Homo sapiens: one gene and its partner. The protein of the gene in region 2 purifies or fractionates together with the protein of the main gene of each other region. This does not show direct contact. Each region holds a gene or a part of one and is shown on either strand. Other genes may lie near its edges.

Region 1 (3,500 bases), on a different chromosome or scaffold from region 2:
ACCCTGGTGTACACCACAATCAGGATAAAGTTTACGCTCCTTAGCAGGGCATTCAGGCCTTCGTGTATGGCCCTAACTTAGCTTTCTAGCCTCATTTCCTACCACATCCAACCACTCTCTTTACACTAATACATTGGGCTCTTTTAGCTTAAGTGCAAAAGCATCTGCTTTTCTCTGCTTTGCTTTGCTCAAAGCTTAAGGAAAAGTAGTCCAAGAGTCAATTTGCAAATCTGCTGAGGGCTTTCCCTTATAGTCCAGGAACACCTCACAGCTTCTCTGAGACAACTGCCAAATCCAACTTGCTGCCACTGCTAATGACAAAGATGCCCTCCTATAGCAGGACTGCCCTGTGCAGTTTACAACAGCACTTCAACTCCTATCCTGTCATTGGCTCTCAAATACTTGAGAAATGTGTAGGCATGTATTACTCCCATTCCAGAGATGAGGCGGCAGTCCCAGAGAGGCAGCGTGTGCTTGGAGTCACACAGCCAGTAAATGATGATGGGTCTGACTTCAAGAGCCAATGCTTTCTTCATATGACAGTATCAGGAGCCGGGTCACTGGCATGCACTTGATATTCCAGCTACCTGGGAGGGTGAGGCAGGAGGACTGCTTGAACCCAGTTCAAGACCAGCCTGGAGAAGATACCCTGTCTCTATTATAAAAATAATTTAAAAAAAAATTTTAGGGGCTGGGTGTGGTGGCTCACATCTGTAATCTCAGCACTTTCGGAGGCTGAGGTGGGTGGATTGCTTGAGCCCAGGAGTTCAAGACCAGCCTGGCCAACATGGTAAAACCCCATCTCTATTTAAAAAAAAAAAAATTCAAAATAAGAAAAAGCAAACAAAAGAAAGAGCATCAGGAGACATAGGTATAGGTACGATTAGGAAAAGGAAGGCTGGCCGGGTGCAGTGGCTCGCCTGTAATCCCAGCACTTTGGAAGACCGAGGTGAGTGGATCACCTGAGGTCAGGAGTTTGAGACCAGCCTGGACAACATGGTGAAACCCCGTCTCTACTAAAAATACAAAAATTAGCCAGGCATGGTGGCAGGCGCCTGTAATCCCAGCTACTCAGGAAGCTGAGGCAGGAGAATCACTTCAACCTGGGGGGTGAGGTAGAGGTTGCAGTGAGCCAAGATCGCACCACTGCACTCCAGCCTGGGTGACAGAGCGAGATGTCGTCTCAAAAAAAAAAAAAAGGCCATCCTAGCAGCCTTCATGTACAAAAAGCCAGGCAGCTTTTCCCTTCAAAGACCAGTCCTATTTATCTCCCCTGGTCTGGAGTGTTATGGCTGTGGTGCAGTGGGCTATCATCACACTGGAGCCTGTTTGACCAATGGCTGAGTTTTATGGGCCCGGCCAGTCTCCATGGCTGCTGTCTCACACAGCTCTGTGCTCAGGGCAGAAGGGAGGGGAGTATGAGGCAATCAGTCAGCAGCGGAATGAGAACCTGGCTCTACTCCTCGGATGGTGCCTGAGTGATATGGTTTGGCTCTGTATCCCCAACCAAATCTCATCTTGTAGCTCCCATGATTCCCATGTGTTGTGGGAGGGACCCGGTGGGAGATGACTGAATCATGGGGGTATGTCTTGCCTGTGCTGTTCTCGTGATAGCGACTAAGTCTCACGAGATCTGATGCTTTGAAAAATGGGAGTTTTTGACCGGGAGTGGTGGCTCATGCCTGTAATCCCAGCACTTTGGGAGGCCAAGGCAGGTGGATTACCTGAGGTCAGGAGTTCAAGACCAGCCTGGCCAACATGGTGAAACCCCGTCTCTACTAAAAATACAAAAGTTAGCCGGGCGTGGTGGCAGGTGCCTATAATCCCAACTACTCAGGAGGCTGAGGCAGGAGAATTGCTTGAACCTGGGAGGTGGAGGTTGCAGTGAGCCGAGATCACACCATTGCACTCCAGCCTGGGCGACAAGAGCAAAACTCCATCTCAAAAAAAAAGGGAGTTTTCCTGCACAAGCTCTCTCTTTTTGCCTTCCGCCATCCACGTAAGAGGTGACTTGCTCCTCCTTGCCTTCTGCCATGATTGTGAGGCATCCCCAGCCACGTGGAACTGTGAGTTCTCCACTAAACCTCTTTTCTTTATAAACTGACCAGTCTCAGGTATGTCTTTATCAGCAGTGTGAAAATGGACTAATACACTGAGCATCTTCCCCAATCTACTCAGCGCCATGAGATGACTCACCTCTGGTGCTGTAGAACCTGTAGCAAGGTGCTCTTGGCAGGCACCCGGTATAGTTCTGCCCTGTCCTCATCCTCAAAGTAGACCTGCAAGATTAACAGAAGGGCAAGAGTCAGAGATAAAGGCTTCGGCAGCCTTAGTTGAGGCTAAGCCCAGGGAAAATTAAAAAGATGGCAACGGTTAGTAGTTGAATGCCTCCTTTATATGGTTGTGTAGCTGGGTGCTTTGCATTTAGTACCCCCCCGCCATGCCACTGTAAAAGAGGCTATTATCAGTTCCATCTTCCAAAGACAGAATCAAGGCTCAGAGAAGAACAACAACTTGCCAACATTACCCTGCTGGTAAACAGAAGAATCAAGACTCAAGGCCAGGCCTATGTAGCCCTCCTTTCCCTAACAAATCAGACTAAAGCCATCAGGTATGTGGAGGAGAAAGCTATGGTGGCTCAGAGAAGGAAAGAGCCTGAAGAAGGAGAGAAGGATGTCTGTGCAGGGTGTCAAAGCCCAAGCAGGGTGAGGAAGACGCCTGCACAGGAAGCTCCCGGGGGTGTCAGAGCAGGACCAGTGAAGAAGAGCATCCATGCTGGGGGCCAGCAGGCCTGAGCAGGGGAAGAAGTGCTCCCTTGTAAGATGGCTGTCCAAGGTGGGGTGTCAGAGGCCATGTGGGGTGAAAAGGGTATCCATGCATGGGGACAAGTAATATGGAGTTTACAGGCCCAACTAGGGTGAGGAGGGTGACCACTCATGGCAGGGGGTGGCCTGCTGTAGGGTGTCAGAGCCCAAGCAGGATGAGGAGGATGTCCATGTAGGGTCGTTGAGCAGTGTGGGATGTCAGAGTCTGTGCGGGGTGAGAAAGACGCCCACGCTGGGGCAGCAGCGTAACATGTGGAGTCAAGAGTCCAAGTAGGGTGAGGAAGGCTCCACATAGGAGAGGGGCCAGTGGTGATGACAGGAGGGGAACTGATCAAACAAATAACTATATTAAGAATAATAAAGTCAGGCCAGGCATGGTGGCTTATGCCTGTAATCTGAACACTTGGGAGGCTGAGGCAGGTGGATCACTTGAGTCCAGGAATTCAAGACCAGCCTGGGCAACATGGTGAAACCTCATCTCTACTAAAAATACAAAAATTAGTTGGGCACGGTGGCAAACGCCTGTGGTCCCAGCTACTTGGGAGACTGAGGTGGGAGGATTGTTTGAGCCCAGGAGGTTGATCTTGGCAGTGAGCCAAGATCTCCCTACCGCACTCCAGCCTGGGCAACACAGCTAGACTCTGTCTCAAAAAAACAAAAACAAAAAAAGAACAA
Region 2 (4,036 bases):
TCACGACTTCCGATAATAGTGGACACATCTTGAAGAGGCGACATAGGCCGAGGAAACCTAGTCACTACACATAAAAGAAGCAAAATAAATCATATGGAAATTGGCATTTTGGGAACTTAGATATTCTGTTGAAAGGAAAATAAGGTCCTTTCTCCTCATATTTAATTACTTTCTTATTGTAAATTTTAAATATAAAATTGAAATACACTAATTAAGTCATTTTTAGGAAAATCAAGAAATTCCTGTGATATGAGAACAAATCCAACAAATCTCAAAAGATTTTATTCCCACAGCAGAATGTAAGCTCTATGAGCAGAAATTTTTATCTATTTTATTCATGATTGTGTCCTAAGTGTCTAAAACAATGCCTGACATAAATATTTGTTCATGTTGTGTAATAAATTGGTACTAAAAATATTTGTGTGGGTTACCATTTTTATGAGAAAACAAATCTTCATTCATAACAAATTATAACCCAAATTTTATGTGTGTGTATATATAAACGGACATATAGACATATGGATATACCCTAAATAAGGATATAATAAATCCTTATTTATAATAAATACATTATAACCTAAATGAAGGTATAGTAACATTAACATTTATAGCTACTGTTAAAAGTCAGAAAGTTAAACTAAGTCAACAAGAATGAAAAATAAAGGACAATCACAAGAAAAGGTCACATAAATGTTAGAAGGGAATCCCATAAGTATTAGAAGGATATGTTCAGGATGATACTGTTCTATCTAATCTCCAGCATATGCTTGGCAATAGATGACATTTAAGAATCATTTGTTAAATAAATGAGAGAATGATAACAAGTATTATGAGTTGAACTGCCCCCCGCCCAAATTTTTATGTTTAAGTCCTAACCTATAGTATCTCAGAATGGGATCTTATTTGGAAATAGGGTTGCTGTAGATGTAGTTAGACAAGATGAAATCATACTGAAGTAGTCGCTTATCCAACACAACCGATGTCCTTATAAGAAGGGAAAATCTGGACACAGAAACAAGCACACAGAAAGTGTGCCACGTGAAGATAAAGGCAAGGTTTGGGGTGATGCATCTAAAAGCCAAGAAACACTAAAGAGTGCCAGCAAACCACCAGAAGCCAGGGGAGAGCCCAGAACAGCCTTTACCTCGCAGTTTCCCTAAGACTACCCTGCCAACACCTTGATCTCAGACTTCTAAAATTCAGAAGTGTGAGATAATAAATTTCTGTTGTTTAAGCCACTCAGTTGGTGGTCCTTTGTTAAGGCAGCCATAGTAAACGAATACAGAAAGCTAAAAAGAAAAAGGGAATTAGAAAGATAGGAAAATCCCTAGGCAGATGAAATGCCTAAATGAGTAAGAGTAAAGGGGTAGAACCTGAAGTGGCCAGCTGGGAGAGCTTTATGAAGTCTTATCTAAAGTCTGAATTTTCATTCTCCTCAATTTAAAAATGTTAAATTAACTCCACACCATTCATTCTCAATTTTCCAAATAAAACTGACATCCAAATAGTATACACTATTTTTATCATGTGGCTTCATGTATCTTTGGACACACTGCATCATACTCCAAATATTATAGGTAGCCTACAGTTTACATGAAAAATGAAATTCAAGAAGATTGTCTGTTGATGTTCTCAATGTTATAATTCTTTGTCCATTAGACACCAGTAAGAGACATGGATAATTTCACAACTCTGAAAAGGCTGCAAAGGTGCCTGATACATAGCAATAGCTTGTCTATAGCCATTTGTCCTGGACGTTAAGGTGCAACAGGGTTATCAATTGCCTGTCAAGTTTCAAAGGTCATTTACTAGCTACTCGGAGAGTAAGATAAGAAAATACTGGCCTCTCCTGTCAATTTTATGTACTTCTGAAAGTAAGTCACATTTCTTCTTTGGAAAAACACAAATTCTGCCACAGATGCTTTTATATTTCTTTCTATCAAGGACATAGTAGAAAAAAGTAATTATATTTACCTTCCTCTATTAAAAATAAAATTAAAAAGTTGGGGAAGAAAATATAAAGAAAGCAGAAATGACAAGCTTCATATACTGGCACTAGTAACTATTAAAAGAATCTTTTGTTGACTCAGATCTATTAACGGAAGGAAATATTTATTTCAGCCTCCCCAGAAAGGCTATAAAAAGGCTATAGATTAAGAGCAACAAGAAAGTATAAGTATTATAAAATAAGACAATGGGGCTTATCCATAAAAGATGAAGCCATATTGTTTACCATACGTATAATCTTATGACCATGAGATTCTACACACATAATACATTTTAAAAATTATGCTGTCATATAAAGTGATTTTTAGACTTTTAATAAAAAACAATTCTTTGGGAAGCTAGGCTGCTAATATTCTACATTTTTCTTCCAGAATTTAAGTTCAGTACCTTCTATCTGTGGCACTTCACCATGAAGCTTGGCTTTGCTGGAGAAAGGTGCATTCTGTAGCACTAATGCAAAGAGAGATGGGATCAAGGACTGCAAGGCAGAAAGATACATGTGGAGTTTGTGTTCATCCAGTCCATGTTCTCCTTCCTGAAACATAAGGAGGTGGAAGCTAATTTTAGTCTTTTGAAGTTACATTGCTAATTGGATTTATGTATGATGTTCTTCCTTACTGTGGCAAATCAAAGATTTAAGGACCTTTATGTTGGACTCAAACAAGCAGTAAGGCACTCTAGAGTGGTAGAATCTTTTACATGGAAAACTATAGGGTAAACATCAGTCATTTCCATTTGTAGGGAATAGTTTTTGTAATTTTACTTTTTCATTAGAGAAGGTCTTATCTTTTGAAATTTTATAAGACAGGGTAAAGAAATTAAAGTAAGGGACAGGAATCACTTTATCTTTTTTCTTGTTAGAATTGATACATAAATAATTGTACATATTACGGGGTACCATGAGATATTTTGATACAGGCATACAATGTGTAATGATTGAATCAAGGTATTGAGATATGCATCACCTCGAACGTGTATCATTTCTTTGTGTTAGGAACATTCCAAATTTTCTCTTCTAGCTATTTTTCAAATATATAACACATTATTGTTAACTATGGTCACCCTACTGTGCTATCAAACACTAGAATGTATTTCTTCTATCTAACTGTATTTTTCTGTTCATTACTCCCCCAGACCCCAGCTTCTGGTCCATTTCATTCTTTACCTCCTTGAGATCAACTGTTTAAGCTCCCACATGTGAGTGAGAACATTCAATATTTGTCTTTCTGTGCCTGGTTTATTTCACTTAACATAATGTCCTCTAGGCTACCTGCTGCAGCAAACGACAGGATAGCATTCTTTTTTTAATGGCTGAATAATATTCCATTGTTTATATATACCATATTTTCTTTATCTATTCATCTACTGATGGACACTTAGGTTGATTCTATATCCTGACTATTATGAATAGTGCTGTAAGAAATATGTGAGTGCTTGAAACTCAACATGTAAGTCCTTGAAAGTATATATCTTTTCAATATACTGACTTCCTTTCTTTTAGATATATACCCAGTGGTGGGATTGGTGGATTACAGGTATTTCTGTTTTTAGTTTTGTGAGGAACTTCCACACTGTTTTCCATAGTGGCTGTACTAATTTACATTCCTACCAACAGTGTACGAAGGTTCCCCTTTCTCCACACCTTGACCAGCATCTTTTTTTTTTTTTTTGTCTTTTTAATAATAGTCATTTCAACTGGGGTGACATGATACTTCATTTTGGTTTAGATTTGCATTTACCTGATGATTAGTGATGTTAAACACTTCTTCATATAACTTTTGGCCATATGTCTTCTTTTGAGAAGTGTTTATTCAGATCATTTGCCCATTCCTTAATTGGATTTTTTTTTTTTGCTGTTGAGTTGTTTGAATCCTTACATATTTTGGTTATTAATCCCTTGTTGGATGGAGAGTTTGCAAATATTTTCTCCCATTCTGTAGGCTGTTTGTTCACTCTGCTGATTCCTTTGCTGCGCGGAAGCTTTTTACTTTAATATAATCCCATTTGTCTATTTTTGCTTTGTTGCCTA

The links.
Region 1: the proteins of RELCH (region 2) and TTC4 fractionate together in Homo sapiens (co-fractionation; one large-scale study listed by BioGRID). This does not show direct contact.

Annotation. Positions count from the first base shown.
Region 1 is NC_000001.11:54,736,361-54,739,860, reverse strand, and holds part of TTC4 (tetratricopeptide repeat protein 4), read right to left. Parts: intron 2,280-3,500; coding exon 2,197-2,279; intron 1-2,196.
Region 2 is NC_000018.10:62,260,017-62,264,052, reverse strand, and holds part of RELCH (RAB11-binding protein RELCH), read right to left. Parts: intron 2,543-4,036; coding exon 2,395-2,542; intron 65-2,394; coding exon 1-64. UniProt on the Homo sapiens protein: Regulates intracellular cholesterol distribution from recycling endosomes to the trans-Golgi network through interactions with RAB11 and OSBP.